Homo sapiens: one gene and its partners. The protein of the gene in region 1 interacts with the protein of each later gene in a biochemical or structural test. Each region holds a gene or a part of one and is shown in the gene's direction. Other genes may lie near its edges. The genes, in order: MED12, ESR2, GLI3, VDR and APLP1.

What was found.
Region 2: the proteins of MED12 (region 1) and ESR2 form a complex in vitro, tested with the Homo sapiens proteins (one study listed by BioGRID).
Region 3: the proteins of MED12 (region 1) and GLI3 form a complex in vitro, tested with the Homo sapiens proteins (one study listed by BioGRID).
Region 4: the proteins of MED12 (region 1) and VDR form a complex in vitro, tested with the Homo sapiens proteins (one study listed by BioGRID).
Region 5: the proteins of MED12 (region 1) and APLP1 form a complex in vitro, tested with the Homo sapiens proteins (one study listed by IntAct).

The regions. Positions count from the first base shown.
Region 1 is NC_000023.11:71,121,305-71,125,182, forward strand, and holds part of MED12 (mediator of RNA polymerase II transcription subunit 12), read left to right. Parts: intron 1-22; coding exon 23-133; intron 134-257; coding exon 258-512; intron 513-895; coding exon 896-1,042; intron 1,043-1,203; coding exon 1,204-1,303; intron 1,304-1,433; coding exon 1,434-1,570; intron 1,571-1,790; coding exon 1,791-1,922; intron 1,923-2,289; coding exon 2,290-2,416; intron 2,417-2,854; coding exon 2,855-3,084; intron 3,085-3,459; coding exon 3,460-3,540; intron 3,541-3,671; coding exon 3,672-3,842; intron 3,843-3,878. UniProt on the Homo sapiens protein: Component of the Mediator complex, a coactivator involved in the regulated transcription of nearly all RNA polymerase II-dependent genes.
Region 2 is NC_000014.9:64,284,138-64,288,015, reverse strand, and holds part of ESR2 (estrogen receptor beta), read left to right. Parts: intron 1-3,878.
Region 3 is NC_000007.14:42,023,924-42,027,801, reverse strand, and holds part of GLI3 (transcriptional activator GLI3), read left to right. Parts: intron 1-1,389; coding exon 1,390-1,603; intron 1,604-2,424; coding exon 2,425-2,538; intron 2,539-3,878. UniProt on the Homo sapiens protein: Has a dual function as a transcriptional activator and a repressor of the sonic hedgehog (Shh) pathway, and plays a role in limb development.
Region 4 is NC_000012.12:47,852,915-47,856,792, reverse strand, and holds part of VDR (vitamin D3 receptor), read left to right. Parts: intron 1-991; coding exon 992-1,163; intron 1,164-3,878.
Region 5 is NC_000019.10:35,874,770-35,878,647, forward strand, and holds part of APLP1 (amyloid beta precursor like protein 1 isoform 1 precursor), read left to right. Parts: coding exon 1-100; intron 101-1,747; coding exon 1,748-1,847; intron 1,848-2,948; coding exon 2,949-3,056; intron 3,057-3,312; coding exon 3,313-3,339; intron 3,340-3,814; coding exon 3,815-3,878. UniProt on the Homo sapiens protein: May play a role in postsynaptic function. The C-terminal gamma-secretase processed fragment, ALID1, activates transcription activation through APBB1 (Fe65) binding. Couples to JIP signal transduction through C-terminal binding.

The DNA.
Region 1 (3,878 bases):
TTCCCTCCCCTGGTACCCATAGGATGGAATGCTGGACAGACATGAGTTCCTGACCTGGGTGCTTGAGTGTTTTGAGAAGATCCGCCCTGGAGAGGATGAATTGCTTAAACTGCTGCTGCCTCTGCTTCTCCGAGTAAGGCTTGGAATTTTGGTACTGGTGGGGCAGGGGGAGTCTAAGAAGAATTTGAGGAAGAATAAAATGTTAGAGCAGGGTCCCCTGGAGAGAACTAGGGGCTCTGATGGTCGTGTCTTCACAGTACTCTGGGGAATTTGTTCAGTCTGCATACCTGTCCCGCCGGCTTGCCTACTTCTGTACACGGAGACTGGCCCTGCAGCTGGATGGTGTGAGCAGTCACTCATCTCATGTTATATCTGCTCAGTCAACAAGCACGCTACCCACCACCCCTGCTCCTCAGCCCCCAACTAGCAGCACACCCTCGACTCCCTTTAGTGACCTGCTTATGTGCCCTCAGCACCGGCCCCTGGTTTTTGGCCTCAGCTGTATCCTACAGGTAGGTACTAGGCGGGCCCAAGGAAGCATTGAGAGATAGCCTGAGAAGAATCAGGTGCCCATCCCAGAGAATAGGGGTAATTCCAAATTGGATGTGGGAGTAGGTGCTGAGTACTTGCTTGGAGGTTGTTGTTTCTTGGTAATGGGGTGTTAGTCCCCTTTGGGGGTTTTCACCAGCCTCTCTCTCCCTTCCAAGGCTAAATAGTGGGCCCAAAGCCTTTTAGGAAAGTGAGTGAAGGGAGGGGATCGGGGTGGAGTGATGCCTGTCTTGGGGACCCAGTCAGAATAACTTTGGATCTGGAATCTACGGGTTGGGTCTTAGAATGGGATTCCAGAGGGGTAACCATGGTGAATGAGTTGGACTTAGCTGTTTCTATCTGGTAGACCATCCTCCTGTGCTGTCCTAGTGCCTTGGTTTGGCACTACTCACTGACTGATAGCAGAATTAAGACCGGCTCACCACTTGACCACTTGCCTATTGCCCCGTCCAACCTGCCCATGCCAGAGGGTAACAGTGCCTTCACTCAGCAGGTATGTCTGACCACTAGCCTGGTACTCTCAGATTGGGCTATGAGGCTAAATTACTCTTTCAGAAGTAGTGATTTGGAGTCTAGTACTATTCTTCTAGCCTGGGGCTCTGGCCTTTTATATGCCTTGGTACATCCTTGTAGCCTTCCTTTTTAACATTGCAGGTCCGTGCAAAGTTGCGGGAGATCGAGCAGCAGATCAAGGAGCGGGGACAGGCAGTTGAAGTTCGCTGGTCTTTCGATAAATGCCAGGAAGCTACTGCAGGTATGTGTCAGAGAACAGATAATAGGAAATATGTTTGAGGAAAGGATGGGGATAGTAAGGACATGTAGATCTAAGAGCCAGAATGCACCGGGCCTCTGGTTCAGTCCCCTTTACCACTTTTCCTCCTTAGGCTTCACCATTGGACGGGTACTTCATACTTTGGAAGTGCTGGACAGCCATAGTTTTGAACGCTCTGACTTCAGCAACTCTCTTGACTCCCTTTGTAACCGAATCTTTGGATTGGGACCTAGCAAGGATGGGCATGAGGTAAGCGAAAAGGGGAATAGAAGGAGCAAAAAACATTGCAAGAGCAATAATATGTCTGAGAGGGAAGTCATGGTGAGGCATTGAAAGCAGAGCATATCTGCAGAAATGATCTTACTGGGCCCAGGATGTTTTATGATAGAGCCCAGTCTTTAGGAAATTGGAACTCATTTCTTTGTCCCCACCCCTACCTTACTCCTCCTTCTCTTCCTTTGTTCTCCAGATCTCCTCAGATGATGATGCTGTGGTGTCATTGCTATGTGAATGGGCTGTCAGCTGCAAGCGTTCTGGTCGGCATCGTGCTATGGTGGTAGCCAAGCTCCTGGAGAAGAGACAGGCGGAGATTGAGGCTGAGGTTAGAGGGCAGAGATAAGAGAACAAGATTGGCCAATGGGAAGGAATTTACTGCGGTTGGAGACCGAGAGATGGAGGTGGTGGAGGGACCAGAGTTGAAGGTGTGAGAACAGAGTAAAGAAGCAAAAGAGAACCTAAAGGCAAAGTTACGGACGTGAGGCGAAAGTAGAGAAGAGTGGATTGTAGTAAGAGTTAGAGATAACATCAAGGCTTCAGTTGGGAGGTGGTAAAGAACATGGAGGTCAGCAGGGGAATGAAAGTGAAAAGCATGGGGTAGAGGTCAAGCAGGTGGTAGTTTAAGGCCTACACATTGAGGAGTGAAGAAGCAGGTAAAAGTCAGTTCTACAATTTGTTCTGTCATCTTGCAGCGTTGTGGAGAATCAGAAGCCGCAGATGAGAAGGGTTCCATCGCCTCTGGCTCCCTTTCTGCTCCCAGTGCTCCCATTTTCCAGGATGTCCTCCTGCAGTTTCTGGATACACAGGCTCCCATGCTGAGTACGGACCCCTACCACTCTCTAGTTACCTCTGCCTAGACTCAGTTACCCACCACTGTCATCAGAAAGCATAATTAACAGCCCTCTGGTCTATATTTCTCTCTTGGGCTCTATGCAGAATGACTTTTAGATGTAGTTCTAGTGATCCTCTTTAACTGGTCATCTTACAGTTAAACAGAGTAGAGAAATACAGAGAAGGATAAAAACAAGAGCTTGTGATTGAAGCATTTTCACTGCATAAATCGCAACAAAGATGTTACATTCCTTTCTGAGATGATGTGTGGGACAGCATGTGGGGTAACCAACCACACTTTGTCCCTCAACAATTTCTGGGATTTCTATTTGATCACTCTTATTATTGCCTTAGGTGTGTCCCTCTCTCTTTTGGCCCACCTTTTTGTGTTCTCCTAACTTATGTTTCCTCATTCCCTTCCTCCAGCGGACCCTCGAAGTGAGAGTGAGCGGGTGGAATTCTTTAACTTAGTACTGCTGTTCTGTGAACTGATTCGACATGATGTTTTCTCCCACAACATGTATACTTGCACTCTCATCTCCCGAGGGGACCTTGCCTTTGGAGCCCCTGGTCCCCGGCCTCCCTCTCCCTTTGATGATCCTGCCGATGACCCAGAGCACAAGGAGGCTGAAGGCAGCAGCAGCAGCAAGCTGGAAGTGAGTGGGCTTTTCCTTGCACTAGATCGTTTCTTCTGACATTTCCATCTTCATGGCTCCCAGGGGCCTCTAAGAGCCTCTTTTGCCTGGGGGAGGGGGGTAGTATTTTTCTTAGCACTTGGTGATTGACCAAGCACTCTCACATCAATTGTTTCATTGGTTCCTCCCATCAGCCTTGTGAGGTACTCTTATCCCCATTTTCAAACTGAAGAAAACAGAGGCCTATACTGGTTAAGTGATTGGATGAGGCTTGACTCCAGATCCTGTGCTTTCCCCAATCTGGTCTTCTCTCTCCACTTCCCCAATGAAGTTTTACAGATGGTGGGAGCCACTCCCTAGGGCTAAAGCAACTTCGCTTATGTTCTATGCCCTCAGGATCCAGGGCTCTCAGAATCTATGGACATTGACCCTAGTTCCAGTGTTCTCTTTGAGGACATGGAGAAGCCTGATTTCTCAGTAAGTTCAATCCTGAGCGTGGCAGAATCTGGATCCTTGGATCTTCCCATTATGCCTGCTTTTGGCATGTTTTTTTGCCCCCTCATCCACTTTCCTTCTTCTCATGTTCTGCTTTCTCACCTTTCTCTCAGTTGTTCTCCCCTACTATGCCCTGTGAGGGGAAGGGCAGTCCATCCCCTGAGAAGCCAGATGTCGAGAAGGAGGTGAAGCCCCCACCCAAGGAGAAGATTGAAGGGACCCTTGGGGTTCTTTACGACCAGCCACGACACGTGCAGTACGCCACCCATTTTCCCATCCCCCAGGTACTATTCCCCAGCACCTTGTGATGATCTGTTTTG
Region 2 (3,878 bases), on another chromosome or scaffold:
CAAATAAATGAATAATTCTTAGAATCAGGATGTCTGGGTACTGGTTCTTTGGTTGGCCAGGTGAAATTCCATGCCAGGCCCAACAATTAAACTCTTTAGAGACAATTTTTTCCTGTTGTACCAGAACATTGTACTGAGGCCATGTTTGAACATTCAATCGATGTGTTGGGAAAACTCTGCCCTACAATGTTAAAGAAATTAAATCTTTTGGGGAGTCTTTCCTTTGACCAGTTTATATCTCTGTTTTAGAGGAGGGCTTCTCAACCAGAATGGGTTTGTTGACTTATTTTTACAGACCTCTGGTAGAAAGGAGGTCTTTTTTTGCTACCTGTTCTCCTGTCTCAGAGAACTATTACAATGGTGTAAGTTCATCATTTCTTCCCCTTATTATGGCTCTGCTTAGGAAGAAAAACTCTTTGCATTGGCTACCAAGTACCTAACTATTCAAGATGCCACTGACAAAGAGTTAATCTGTGAATCATGTGAATCTGATATATCTGAAATATATCCAAACAAAAAGCACCTAGCCTTTTAATGACTCTCCAGAAGTCAGTTCTCTAACTTTAATTATCATCCTTCTGGGGATATGTGGAAATTCTACAGAAGTTGATTGGTGATATGTTGAGATGTGAGATCTGTATTTTCTAAGCAAAGTTGCCATGCACCTGATTGATTGGCTAGGTGTATCCTGGCATTTGTCATTTGTTGGTGGGGTCTGATAGTTGGTTTCACCACTGCTGGGTACCCAGAGTCATCACATCCATAGAGACAGAATGTAGGCTGGTGGTTGCCAGGGGCTGGGGGAAGGGAGGAGTGGGGAATTTGTTTAACAGAGAGTTTTAGTTTTGCAAGATGAAATGAGTTCTAGAGATTGGTTGCACAATAATGTGAATATCCTTAACACTACTGAACTTTATACTTAGAAATGGCTAAGATGGTAAGTTTTATGTTACATGTATTTTAACACAATTAAAAAAGAAAAAAAAAAAAACAACTTCAGGCCAGGCACGGTGACTCACACCTGTAATCCCAGCACTTTGGGAGGCTAAGGCGGGCAGATCACTTGAGGTCAGGAGTTCAAGACCAGCCTGGCCAACATGGTGAAACCCCATCTCTACTAAAAATACAAAAATTAGCCTGGCCTAATTGTGCATGCTTATAATCCCAGCTAATTGTGAGGCTGAGGCAGGGGAATCGCCTCAAACCCTGGAGGTGGAGGTTGCAATGAGCCGAGATCACACCACTGCACTCTCCAGCCTGGGTGACAGAGTGAGATTTCATTTCAAAACAAAAAACCACTTTAGAAACTGCTAGTTTTGGCAATAGTTATCACTATATGTTTTATCCTGCATATTTTCTGTTAAGAATAAGGAATTGTTTATGTTGATCAGGAATCTAAGTAATTAAAATACAAAATTCTGGCTGGTGGCTCTCGCTTGTAATCCCAGCACTTTGGGAGGCCAAGGCGGGTGGATCATTTGAGGTCGGAAGTTCAAGACCAGGCTGGTCAACATGGTGAAACCCCATCTCTACTAAAAGTACAAAAAATTAGCTGGGCATGGTGGTAGGCACCTGTAATCCCAGCTACTAGGGAGGCTGAGGCAGGAGAAGCACTTGAAGTCAAGAGGCGGAGGTTGCAGTGAGCCAAGATTGTACCACTGCACTCCAGCCTGGGTGACACAGCGAAACTCCATGTAAAAAAAAAATGAAATATAAAATTCCATACTCATTATTAATTACATATAGTATTAAAATAAAACCCAAACACCAAACCTTCCTTGATCCTATATCCTTCTCCAGCTACCATTCTCTCTCCTCTCCTTGGTCCAAATTTTTGATTTACAATGTTGGTTGGAAGTGGTACCACTTTGGTGTTAGTTCCTTATCATTTTACCTGGTCTGTCCTGCCTCTTCCTGGTACATTAGCTCCCTGAAGGCAGGGTGTATGTCCCAGAACTCCTTGAAGTCCCTTTTCTCAGCATACTACCATGCCTACTGCAGCACCCCCCATCTTTAATGTCCTTGACTTGGTGAAATATTACATTTTGAACACATTTCCTCACTTCCTTATGACAAATATTGATTGAGTTTCAGTGCAAGGTGAGTAAGAAATGGTACTTGCTTTCAAGGAGCTAAAAATCTGAATTTCCTTTTTTTTTTCTTTTTCTTTTTCTTTTTTTTTTTTTTTTGAGACAGAGTCTCACTCTGTCACCTGGGCTGGAGTGCAGTGGCACGATCTCAGCTTAATGCAGCCTCCGCCTCCCAGATTCAGTGATTCTCATGTCTTAGCCTCTCGAGTAGCTGGGACTACAGGCATGCACCACCACGCCTGGCTAACTTTTGTATTTTTAGTGAAGATGGTGTTTCACCATCTTGGCCAGGCTGGCCTCAAACTCTTGACCTCATGTGATCCACCCACCTCGGCCTCCCAAAGTGCTGAGATTACAGGCATTGACTTTACTTCTTACTCTCCTATGCACCTCTATCATTTTGAAGAAGGGTTCAAGGTAGTTCTGATAAGCAGGATTAGGTTTGTATGTAAGTGATTAAAGGGGTGCTATGAGCAAAAAAAGTGTGAAGGTATAACAAGCCAACCACCTCACAATGCAGTTTGCATGTTTCTTAATGGACATAGCAGGTTTTCTGTAAGAAAACAGCAGGAGATTCGTGTGGAATGATGGGTTGAGGCAACATAGTGGCATCCCTTGAATGCTCGAAGAATGTGACTTAGAGTTTGGTGGGAAGCAGAGAGCTGGGTTTTAAGAACATGAATCTGACAACTCTATGGATCTGGAGGAGAAGCTAACTGGGGACGAGGAGCAGTAAGAAGCCTGTTACAGATGCACTGATAAGAAGTAATGAGAGCTGGCCGGGCACAGTGGCTCACGCCTGTAATCCCAGCACTTTGGGAGGCCGAGGCGGGCAAATCACAAGGTCAGGATTTCAAGACGAGCCTGGCCAACATGGTGAAACGCCGTCTCTACTAAAAATACAAAAAGTTAGCTGGGCGTGGTGGCGGGCGCCTATAATCCCAGCTACTCGGGATGCTGAGGCAGAAGAATCGCTTGAACCTGGAAGGTGGAGGTTGCAGTGAGCCGAGATTGCGCCACTGCACTCCAGCCTGGGTGACAGTGCGAGACTCCGTCTCAAAAAAAAAAAAAAAAAGTAATGCGATAATGAGAGCTTACTTCAAGATGGCAGCAAAAGACAGTGGAAAAAAGGCATTGGGAAAAAAAGCCAATGTGCCTTGATGAGTAAAGTTAACTGAGTCAAGGGGAGAAGTCAAAGGTAACTATGATGGGCTTTTTCTATTAACACAAATAGGAAATGAGTGGTTTTGGGAAAGAAAGTGATGAATTACCCCTCAGATATTGTATTAATTGTCTATTACTGTGGCCGGGCATGGTAGCTCATGCCTGTAATCCCAGCACTTTGGGAGGCCGAAACAGGCAGATCACTTGAGGTCAGGAGTTCGAGACCAGCCTGGCCAACACGGTGAAACCCTGTCTCTACTAAAAATACAAAAATTAGTGTGGTGGTGTATGCCTGTAATCCCAGCTACTCAGGAGGCTGAGACATGATAATTGCTTGAACCTGGGAGGCAGAGATTGCAGTGAGCTGATATGGCGCCATTGCACTCCAGCCTAGGCAACAAGAGTGAAACTCCATCTCAAAAAAAAAGATTTGCCTGTAATCAGCCAGCACCCCCAGCCTTGTGCTCACTTTACATACAAAAATTCTGTTTTTTAGAGCATAAATTGAAGGGCACATTCAAAACTGATACGTAGGCCAGGCATGGTGACTTATGCCTGTAATCCCAGCACTTTGGGAGACCGAGGCAGGTGGATCACTCGAGATCAGGAGTTTGAGACCAGCCT
Region 3 (3,878 bases), on another chromosome or scaffold:
TTATTAAGGAAATACAATGTAGAATGAAAGGAGAGTTTCTCAAAGCCTGGTGAAATTCTCCTAGGGTATTCTTAATGATATTCAGTCTTAAATGGGCAAGCTATTGTAATGTAAGGTTCTCTGCAGGAATGATAGTAATGTAATCCCATTGAAGCTGCCTGTTATGGATTGTAGTCAAATAGGCAAAATGTAGAGTCACATTAATGAACAGAGTATATCTTTGGAATTATTACTTAAAGTTGTTGAAATGGTTTGAATTTTGCTATTGTAATTATTTTATTCTCCTTTAATGCGCTTAATAGCCATAGTAATTAACCCACCAGATTGGAAATTTGCATGAGTTCTAACTTTGACATTACAAGAAACCCTGATTCTTTCTGGGTATTACACAGCAGGACAGGGAGAAATACATACATATATATATATAAATATTTTTTTCACTGATTATTTTTTTAAAAAGAAATTTCCATGAATGCAATTATTAGTTTTTCATGCATTTTTAAGCCATTGGCAAATTCCTTAAGAACACTCCATTCTTTTAAGAGGATTTGATTCCAGAACCACACTGGCACAAAGAATGATTTGGCATTGCCTGCTAGTCGAGAAATCTTTAGGTATTATCACTGCTTCCTCAGGACTTACTGTAGCCTGGGAAATAGTGTGGCATAATAAAGTGGTGACAGTCATTAGCATGCATAATGGGCTTTAATAGACATTAAATGCTGTTTAGCTAGAAGAGGGAGCAGTGCTCTCCCACTGGAATATTCCTCCATCGAAGCCCATTGATCACTGATTTCAGCGGGGAGAGGTTAATCCATCAGCTTCTGTAACCAGACGGCACTGATGGAAATTCTTTAGGTGGCATTCTGGATGAACCAAGCTTTCCATCTTTACAAACAAATGAGTGATATGACAAGCATGGTGTTCAAAACACATTTAACCAATTGATTTTCTTTCCTCTTGTAATAAGATCTGGAGACATATGAAAGCGTGCAGTGTGAGCTAAGATTAAAGGAATTGCTCCATGCACAGGAACATACGGAACTAAGAGCCAATAAAAGTCCTATAAAGCATGTAGTCACCCATTCTCTTTTTATATAAAGTTTGTTATTGCAATAAATAGTTATTATTGAACTGATGCCTTTTATTTCCGTTTTTGCAGAATCTTGTTTTAGGTCTGCGTGTATGTGTGCACACACATGTGTGTCTCATCTCAGTGTTCATCTTTCTCTTAGAAGTTTTCAAGATGCTTGGCAATAATCCTACCTTCTCATTTAAACAAATTTGATTTGGGATGGTAAAATTATAGATAGAAAGCTGCAGATCTTGTGTACTTGTCTGAGCTCAGCGTTTAAGTGATGATCGTCTTTTTTTATCTCCCCCGTGCAGCCCTGCCTTGAGCTTCACCTACTCTTCCGCGCCCGTCTCTCTCCACATGCATCAGCAGATCCTAAGCCGACAACAGAGCTTAGGTTCAGCCTTTGGACACAGCCCTCCACTCATCCACCCTGCCCCAACTTTTCCAACACAGAGGCCTATTCCAGGGATCCCTACGGTTCTGAACCCCGTCCAGGTCAGCTCCGGCCCTTCTGAGTCCTCACAGGTGAGAGGGACAGGTCGATGCACCCGGCCGTGCTGGTCAGCCGAGGGTGGGGGCAGGCCACCACGTCAGCTGTTAATCAACACGGCACCTCTGTGTTCTCACAGCCTCTGTACTAGCATCCTGTCTTCTTAATGCTGAGGTCTAGTCTTCAGTTTTGGTGGACGTGTTGTGTAAATGCTTCTCATCAAACAGTTTTTTCCCCCAGGGTCATTTTCCCATGGGCATAGCAGCAGGCTGCTTGATAAGGCTTCACTGTGACCTGGTGCCATCTGTAACCTGCATCCCATGTCAGTGCAGCATGTGGATGCATTGCTCTCATTTGGTCACTGTTCACTCCCTCCGCTAGAACCACAGTTGCGACTTACCACCAGGTGGTACTTTAGAGTAAGACTAAAACTGTGCTTTGCCCTGCGTTAACTGTTGCCACTTTGATATTGTTTGGAGAAGAATCTGGTTGCTCTAATTAAAGAACTTCACAAATGGAACGTGTTGGTCTTCTACCCTCCTCACAACTTTGTTCTTTTGAAATACCCTGTTGGAGCTTGTTAAAGCCTAGGGCCTCAGCTCCATTCTTCTAGCTTTTAAAAGCCATAGGGAGTTTATACTCACGAGTTAAAAATGAAGAGCTGCCGCATGAACGTATTTTCTAGCTTTGAACATACTATCTGAACTCTGCTTACACTGGGATTGGAGAATTATCAGAGTCATTGCTTTATAGCCAAATAAGACCGCTTGTCCCGAGTTGGCAAGGTTTTAATTATGGTACTGCTCCTTGTTGATGAAAATCTTTTTGTCTCTGGCTCTGCAAATGTGACCAGCAGAACAAGCCCACGAGTGAGTCTGCAGTGAGCAGCACTGGTGACCCGATGCACAACAAGAGGTCCAAGATCAAACCCGATGAAGACCTCCCCAGCCCAGGGGCTCGGGGGCAGCAGGTAGGACACCGAGGCCGCACAGGCCAGCGCCCACTCCTCCCAAGACTGGTGTCTTTGGGTCAGCTCCCGCTTCCTCCCCAGACCTGGTGTCTTTTTCACGGCAGTTCCTTGTCCACTGCATTGTTGACCTTGGCCGTACTCTACATGTTGTACAAAAGGCTAGATATGGAGTGACTAAATCATTTTTCTAGCTCAGAAGCAAACACAGGCAGTGCAGGAAGCCATGCGGGACATACCTTCTTGATAGTTTAGGCAGCTTGGGAGTATTGGCAACTGTAGTTCGTAGAGGAAATGGTTGCATTAATTTGTTGCTGGCCACAGGTGCGACCAGGCCTCAGTCCTCATCTGTGATTTTGGGCCTGAATTATTGAGCTCCTGGACCCAAGCCTGAGCTGTGGCGGATCTACTGATGGCTCCTATATCATTTTTTCTTATTTTGCTACTTCCCACTTTCTAGGAGAGCCTGGCGAACCAGAAGGGATGAAAACATAACTAACCTAAGGCTAGTTGGATTCTGGCACTCAGCCTAAAATTCTGAAAGGAAGAGTGTAGGATTTCAATCCGGACTCCGCCTCTAGTCACTTAAATTCTCTGGGCCTCAGTTTAAGGATGTGTAGGTTATACCCATAATATCATCTCATAGGGCTCTCAGCCTGATGCAGGAAGGAGCTCTATGAATGCTAATTCCCCACCATAGAGATTGGACAAGAGTCCAGATGTCCACAGAATCTGGACCTTGCTGTCATCAGGCTGCTTCAGCCCAAACCTCAGACTGCTTGCCCAAATTTCCTTTTCAGCAAGAACGTGGAGGCTGGAGTAAATTGTGTCACGGGCTCTGAAATGGATCTTTCCTCTTGCATATCGCCAGACAGCAACAACCTTGCTGGTTACACTTCAATGCCTGCATATGGCTTTTATCATCTAGCCCTGGATTGGGACCTGAATCTACACAAGATGAATTCTCAAAATGACTTGTATTGGCATTGCTGTGAAGCTGCCACAGGGGTTTAGGAAGGACTGTGCCCCTGAGCTTTGATGCTGTGGCCCCTGGGCCCTGGGTAGTGAGCATATCCTTAGAGATCAGAGGTTGAATCGAGAGGGCATTATCCCTATAAAGTCTACAAAAGTGTCTCACACAGTCTCCAACAGCAGCGAAAACAGCATTAGAAGTACTAGTAAACCATTTCCCTGGATTACAAAATATAAGAATAAACAAAGTAACAGACCAAAAATAATTAAAACAACTAAACAAAATAGAAGTACCAATCTTTTGGGTAAAGACCTGATTTGATTTATTCTCTTATGAGCTTTGTTTTGTTTTTTGTTTGTTTGTTTTACGT
Region 4 (3,878 bases), on another chromosome or scaffold:
TTCAGAAGGTGAAATTTGGAGTGGGAAGGTGAACGTGTTGGTCCTATTGAGGTCCACCTTCCACTTGAGCTCTGGGGACCACTCTGGCCCTGGAGGACCTGTCCCCTCCAGCTCAGCTGAGAGTCTGGGAGGCATCATGCTTTCCTTCCTTTCTTTTTTTTTTTTTTTTTAAAAAAAACACATATGTATATTTAGAAAAGAAATTGTGCTGTATACAATCTGATGACTTGCTTTTTTTTATATGGCATTGTTTTTCCATACCAGTTAGTACGCATCCAGAATATAATTTTTAAGGGCTGCATAGTATTCTGGAATACAATAATGTACCTAATCCCCTACCATTGGATATCTGGATTATTTCTCAGCATTTTAATAAGAAAACAGTATACTTGTAGCCAAATATTTACACTTATCGGAAATTTTCCCTTACAATGAATTCCAGGAAGTGTGACTACTGGTCAAAGAGTACACACAATTATTTGACTAATGTCAAATAGCTTTCTAGAGTACCTTCAGTAATGTGCACCTCCTTTAGCACCCCAGCCCTCATAGGCATTGCCTAATTTCCTGCATCTTTATAAATACTGGCATCAATATTTAAACATTTTTGTTTCTGGTTTGTAGGTGAAAATTATAGATGTTCTACACTGCAGTTCTTTGACCATTAGCAAGGTTGAACATTTTTTTCCATGACTTGATGGGTCCCAAATTCTTTCTTGATTGAGATCCATAGGAACAGCACACAGTCTGCTTGAGGAAGTCTCATTGCTCTGAGTGTCTCTGGCTCTTTGATTTTACTGCCTTATGCTGCTGAAAGAGGCAGAGAGAGTCCCAGAGGGAAGCCTGGGGCTGAAGGGTGACCTGTGGAGTCACTGTGGGATTCCCAGCTGGCTCTGCTGCCAGGGCACACCAGGTTTTTGCAGGGTCTGGCAGGAGGGGGCCTGGTCCAAGTATCCTTAAATAGCTCCTTCTCTTCCCTCATCTCTCCCAGACATGATGGACTCGTCCAGCTTCTCCAATCTGGATCTGAGTGAAGAAGATTCAGATGACCCTTCTGTGACCCTAGAGCTGTCCCAGCTCTCCATGCTGCCCCACCTGGCTGACCTGGTCAGTTACAGCATCCAAAAGGTCATTGGCTTTGCTAAGATGATACCAGGATTCAGGTAAGAAACTTCTGCAATCTCTGGGGAACAGAGTCAGAGTCCTAGACTGAGCTACAAGAAGGGTTGGAGATCACTCATCCACCACTTCTTTTTTTTATTTTTTATTTTTTTAAACGGCATCTTGCTCTGTCACGCAGGCTGGAGTGCAGTGGCGCGATCTCGGCTCACTGCAACCTCCGCCTCCTAGGTTCAAGCGATTCTCCTGCCTCAACCTCCCAAGTAGCTGGGATTACAGGCACCAGACACCACGCCCGGCTAATTTATTTATTTATTTATTTATTTATTTATTTTTATTTTTTTTCCAGACAGATTCTCGCTCTGATGCCCAGGCTGGAGTGCAGTGGCACTATCTTGGCTCACTATAACCTCCGCCTCCCGGGTTCAAGTGATTCTCCTGCCTCAGCCTCCTAAGTAGCTGGGATTACAGGTGTGGGCCACCAAGCCCGGCTAATTTTTATAATTTTAGTAGAGACGGGGTTTCACCACGTTGGCCAGGCTGCTCTCGATCACCTGACCTCGTGATCCAACCACCTTGGTCTCCCAAAGTGCTGGGATTACAGGCATGAGCCATCGCGCCCTGCCCTAATTTTTTTATTTTTAGTAGAGACGGAGTTTCGCCATGTTGGCCAGGCTTGTCTCAAACTCCTGACCTCAAGTGATCCACCCACCTCAGCCTCCCAAAGTGCTGGGATTACGGGCATGAGCCACAGCAGCCAGCCTCCATTGCTTCTTTAAAATAGAGATTCAGACCCTACCCTAGACCTGCGAAATCAGAATCTCTGGCGTAGGCCCAGAAATCTGTATTTAGAAAGTGCAGCCTGTCTTGCGTTACTCTGCAGGCCAGCACTGGAGAGCTAGTCCATCCCCGCACTTTCTGGATGATGGTGTGGAAGCCCAGAGAGGTCCAATGGCCAGCCAGGATCCCTTCCAGGTGTTGGAGCCAGCATGTCAGAGCCAGGCCTAGAACTCCCAGCTCACTGCTGTGTTCACTCCAGCTGGCTTGACTGGAATCCTCATATTATCTCTTTAAATTCAACGATATGATTCCTCCACACCCCAACTCTGAGAGCAGAATGAAGTGATAGAGAGAAGGGCTTGGCCATGTAGACTTGTGAAACAGTCTAGGAATCCTGGAGAGAGATAGGTTTACTGGCATATATGACCCTGGCATCCTTCACCAAAATGTACATTTAAAGACCATTTCCTGGCTGGGCACAGTGGCACATGCCTATCCCAACACTTTGAGAGACTGAGGTAGGAGGATTGCTTCAGCCCAGGAGTTCCAGACCAGCCTGATCAACATAGTGAGACCTCTTCTCTACAAAAAAAAAAAATTATAAATTAGCCAGGTGTGGTTGCACATGCCTGTAGTCCCACCTACTAGGGAGGCTGAGGCAGGAGAATCACTTGAGCCCAGGAGGTCAAGGCTACAGTGATCCATGATTTCACCACTGCACTCCAGCCTGGGCAACAGAGCAAGACCCTGTCTCAAAAAAGAAAAAAATAAAGACCATTTCCTAACCATACTGATACATTTTTGCCAAAATATATAAGTATAAGGAGTTCTACTGGAGAAGGGATCCTCCTTTATCAATTCATTCATATAAATTTCATTCATTTATTCCTATGTTTCATTGTTTTAACACTAGTACTGTATATAATACTTATATTTAAATACTCATGCAGTGTTAATTTTTTTTTTCTTTTTTGAGACGGTTTCGCTCTTTTCACCTAGGCTGGAGTGCAATGGCGCGATCTCAGCTCACTGCAACCTCCGCCTTCCAGGTTCAAGCAATTCTCCTGCTTCAGCCTCCCAAGTAGCTGGAACTACAGGAGCGTGCCACCATGCCTGGCTAATTTTTTGTATTTTTTTTGAGACAGAGTTTCCCTCTTGTTGCCCAGGCCGGAGTACAATGACGCGATCTCAACTTACTGCAACCTCTGCCTCCTGGGTTCAAGCAATTCTCCTGCCTCAGCCTCCTGAGTAGCAGAAATTACAGGCACGCACCACCACGCCTGGCTAGTTTTGTATTTTTAGTAGTAGAGTTGGGGTTTCACCATCTTGGCCAGGCTGGTCTTGAACTACTGACCTCAGGTGATCTGCCAGCCTCAGCTTCCCAAAGTGCTGGGATTACAGGCATGAACCACCACGCCCGGCCAATATTCTTTTTTTTTTTTTTTTTAATTGAGGCAGAGTCTCGCTCTGTCGCCTAGGCTGGAGTGCAGTGGCATGATCTCGGCTCACTGCAAGCTCCGCCTCCCGGGTTCACGCCACTCTCCTGCCTCAGTCTCCCGAGTAGCTGGGATGACAGGCGCCCGCCACTACGCCCGGCTAATTTTTTTGTATTTTTAGTAGAGACAGGGTTTCACCGTGTTAGCCAGGATGGTCTTGATCTCCTGACCTCGTGATCCGCCTGTCTCGGCCTCCCAAAGTGCTGGGATTACAGGCATGAGCCACTGCCGGCCAATATTCTTAAAACAATAGAGTATTGACACATTTAATAGATGTGTTGGGAAATGGCTATATTTATGTATATTTGTATCTTCATTCTTCCCCAAAGTTCATTTGGTATATTGCCATAAAATACATAAACAATATGGTTGAGAAAGAGAAGTAAATCAATCTCAAGCAATGTTATTGTCTTTCAAGTAGCAGCAATAGCTGTATTTACGGCAGAAGGGGCAAAATGCTTCCTAGATACTAATGCTCAGATT
Region 5 (3,878 bases), on another chromosome or scaffold:
CTACCTGCGTGCGGAGCAGAAGGAACAGAGGCACACGCTGCGCCACTACCAGCATGTGGCCGCCGTGGATCCCGAGAAGGCACAGCAGATGCGCTTCCAGGTGCTCACATCCTTCCAGCTCCCAAATGCGCCGCTATTCCTCAGACGCCCGCGCCTCAGGCTCTTCTCTTGTCCCTTAGACCCTCTTTCTGTCTCTTGGACCCCTTCCTATCCCCTGAACACCGCTTCTCTGCCCCTTCCCAGTCTCTCAGCTCAGCTTCCTGACCCTGAAACATGGACCCTCACATGCTGTGTCTTTGACCCCTGCTTCTTGGCCCTTGGATTCCTACTCCCCCCGCCGTCGATCCTATGTTCTGTCCCTTGGATTTTCACTGCCTTTCCCAGAATCGTCTTTTTTTTTTTTTTTTTTTTGAGACAGGTTCTTGCTCTGTCGCCCAGGCAGGAGAGCAGTGTGCGATCTTGGCTCATTGCAACTTCCACCTCCTGGGTTCAAGCAATTCTCCTGCCTCAGCCTCTCGAGTAGCTGGGATTACAGGAGCCTGCCACCACACTGGGCTAATTTTTTTTTTTTTTTTTGACAGAGTCTCGCTCTGTTTCCCAGGCTGGAGTGCAGTGACATGATCTGGGCTCACTGCAACCTCCGCCTACTGGGTTCAAGCTATTCTCCTGCCTCAGCCTCCTGAGTAGCTGGGACTACAGGCGGGTGTCACCACATCTGGCTGATTTTTGTATTTTTAGTAGAGACAGGGTTTCACCATACTGGTCAGGCTGGTCTTGAACTCGACCTCAGGTGATCCACCCTTGGCCTCCTAAAGTACTCGGATTACAGGTGTGAGCCACCACGCCCGGCCCCAGCTAATTTTTGTATTTTTGGTAGACACGGGTTTCAGCATGTTGGCCAGGCTGGTCTTGAACTCCTGACCTCAGGTGATCTGCCTGCCTTGGCCTCCCAAAGTGCTGGGATTACAGGCGTGAGCCACCATGCCCAGCCAGAAACCCCAATAACTTTTGCACCAATCTAATATTTTTAGCAGAGACAGGGTTTTGCCATGTTGCCCAGGCTGGTCTCGAACTCCTGACCTCAGGTGATCTGCCCACCTCGGCCTCCCAAAGTGCTGGGATTACAGGCGTGAGCCACCATGCCCGGCCAGAAACCCCAATAACTTGCACCAATCTAATATTTTTAGCAGAGACAGGGTTTTGCCATGTTGCCCAGGCTAGTCTCAAACTCCTGACCTCAGGTGATCTGCCTACCTCGGCCTCCCAAAGTGCTGGGATTACAGGCATGAGCCACCGCGCCCGGTCGAGAATCTCCTTCTTGTTCCTTGAACCCTCTTCCTGTCCCTCAACCTCCTTTCTCCATAACTTCACTTGTTTTCCCTGGAACCCCTGTTCTGTGCGCTCAAATTTGAATTCCCCTTTCCTGGATGTTTTCTTCCTGTCTATGAAACTCCATTCTGTGCTCTTGAACTCCAAATCTTGCCTTGAACCATGTCATTTCTATATGACCCTCCAATCCTCAATCTCTGTCTCTGGAATCCCCTCAAACCCCACTTTCTGTTCCTTGGACTTTATTCTTCAATTTCCTTCTCCTATGGCCCAGTTCCTAACCCTTGTACCACACATCCTGTCCATTGCATGTGCCGCTTTTCCTCAGTCGCTATTGAATTCCTCCTTCATACTGCTTCAGTTTCCTCATCTCCAGCCTGCATTGCGCAGTTCATCCTTCATGTCCACTCACCCACAGGTGCATACCCACCTTCAAGTGATTGAGGAGAGGGTGAATCAGAGCCTGGGCCTGCTTGACCAGAACCCCCACCTGGCTCAGGAGCTGCGGCCCCAAATCCGTGAGTGTCTATTACCCTGGCTCCCATTACAGATCTCTGAGGGCAGATCTTGACTCCTAAATGTTGGGCCCCCCCAATTTCATTTATTCCTCTATAACAAACAGCCCAGACCTTAGCAGTGAAAATCAACAATGATTTTTCTTTGTTCATGATTCTGCCATCCGGTCTGCGCTCAGCAGAGTGGTTCTTTCAGTGGTCTTGCCAGTGGTCAAGCATGCAGCTGTATTTAGCTAGCAGATCATCTAGGGGCTGGGAGTCTAGCACAAATGGACCTTTCTCTCTCTCCAAGGAAGCGCAAGGCCTCTCTTCTCCGTGGAGCTTCTCCATGTGGTCTCATCAGCAGGGTAGCTAGATTCCCTACATGGTGGTTTATGCTCTCTAAGACATCACAGTGGAAGTTGCTAGGTCTTAAGGCTTGGGCCCACATTCTATTTGTTAAAGCAAGTTACAAATTCAGTCCAGATTCAAGGGAAGGAACCTATATGCATACCGGAAAGTGTGACCTATTGCAGCCCCCACATCTATTGTGTCTTTCTCCTGGATATCTCACACATAACCCTGATTCTCCTAGTATTTAAGAAAGCTATCATCTTGAGGCGCGGTGGCTCACGCCTATAATCCCAGCACTTTAGGAGGCCGAGGCGGGTGGATCACTTGAGGTCAGGAGTTCGAGACCAGCCTGGCCAACATGGTGAAACCCCGTCTTTACTAAAAATACAAAAATCAGCCGGGCATGATGTCGCTTGCCTGTAATCCCAGCTACTTAGGAGGCTGAGGCAAGAGAATTGCTTGAACCCGGGAGGTGGAGGTTGCAGTGAGCTGAGATCGCATCATTGCACTCCAGCTGGGCAACAAGAGTGAGACTCTGTCTCAAAAAAAAAAAAACAAAAAAAAAACATAATCTTGAAACTTCAGCCTCCATCCTTCCTGCCAGCAGTGCCTCCATCCAGCTTCCCACTTTCTCAGATCACACTTCTGGCTACCCCACACTTGGGGCTGACTCTGCTGTCTGCATGATCTCCCACTTGCTCTACTGGTAGGGTGCCCTCCACTCACCCCTATGCTCACTACCTCAGCCACCTTTCTGCATGTCCCCCTCAGAGGAACTCCTCCACTCTGAACACCTGGGTCCCAGTGAATTGGAAGCCCCTGCCCCTGGGGGCAGCAGCGAGGACAAGGGTGGGCTGCAGCCTCCAGATTCCAAGGATGGTGAGTGAGCCCACATATAGATGACCCCAGACATTAGGGAACAGGCCCCAGCCTAATTTGTAATCCCCTAGAGTCTGAGGGTGTCTTCACCACCACAGTGACTGGGAGAGGATGAGGAGGAACGTCTAAGGTTGCAGGGGCCTCTGTAGGATCCCCAATCCTCCTTCTTAGTCCCTGGAAGGATGTTTCTCCACCTTTCTTTGCTGATACCCTCCTCTCTTCACTGTTCCACTCCCTTGCTTCCTCTGGCTGCCAGCAGACACCCCCATGACCCTTCCAAAAGGTGAGTGTCTCACAGTTAACCCCAGCCTCCAAATCCCACTGAATCCCTGAACCCAGAAGGAAACAGGGTCCATCCATTGGGAACCTCAGACCCCCTGGGGTAGAGTTTGATGTACTTTCCAGCCCCCTCCTCTGGACCCTAAAGAATGAGATAGGGCCAGGCGCTGGTGACTCACACCCGTAATCCTAGCACTTTCAGAGGCTGAGGCAGGAGGATCCCTTGAGGCCACGAGTTCTAGACCAGCCTGGGCAACATAATGAGACCCTGTACCTACAAATAATTTAAAAATTACCTGGGTGTGGTGGGGCATGTCTGTAGTCCCAGCTGCTCAGGAGGCTGACGTAGAAGGATCACTGGAGCCCAGGAAGTTGAGGCTGCAGTGAGCTGAGATCATGCCACTGCACTCCAGCCTGGGTGACAGAGTGAGACTCTGTCTAAAGAAAAAAAAAAAGAATGAGATCAGACTTGGGGGTAGGGTCCACAGAACAAGATGCTGCATCCCCTGAGAAAGAGAAGATGAACCCGCTGGAACAGTATGA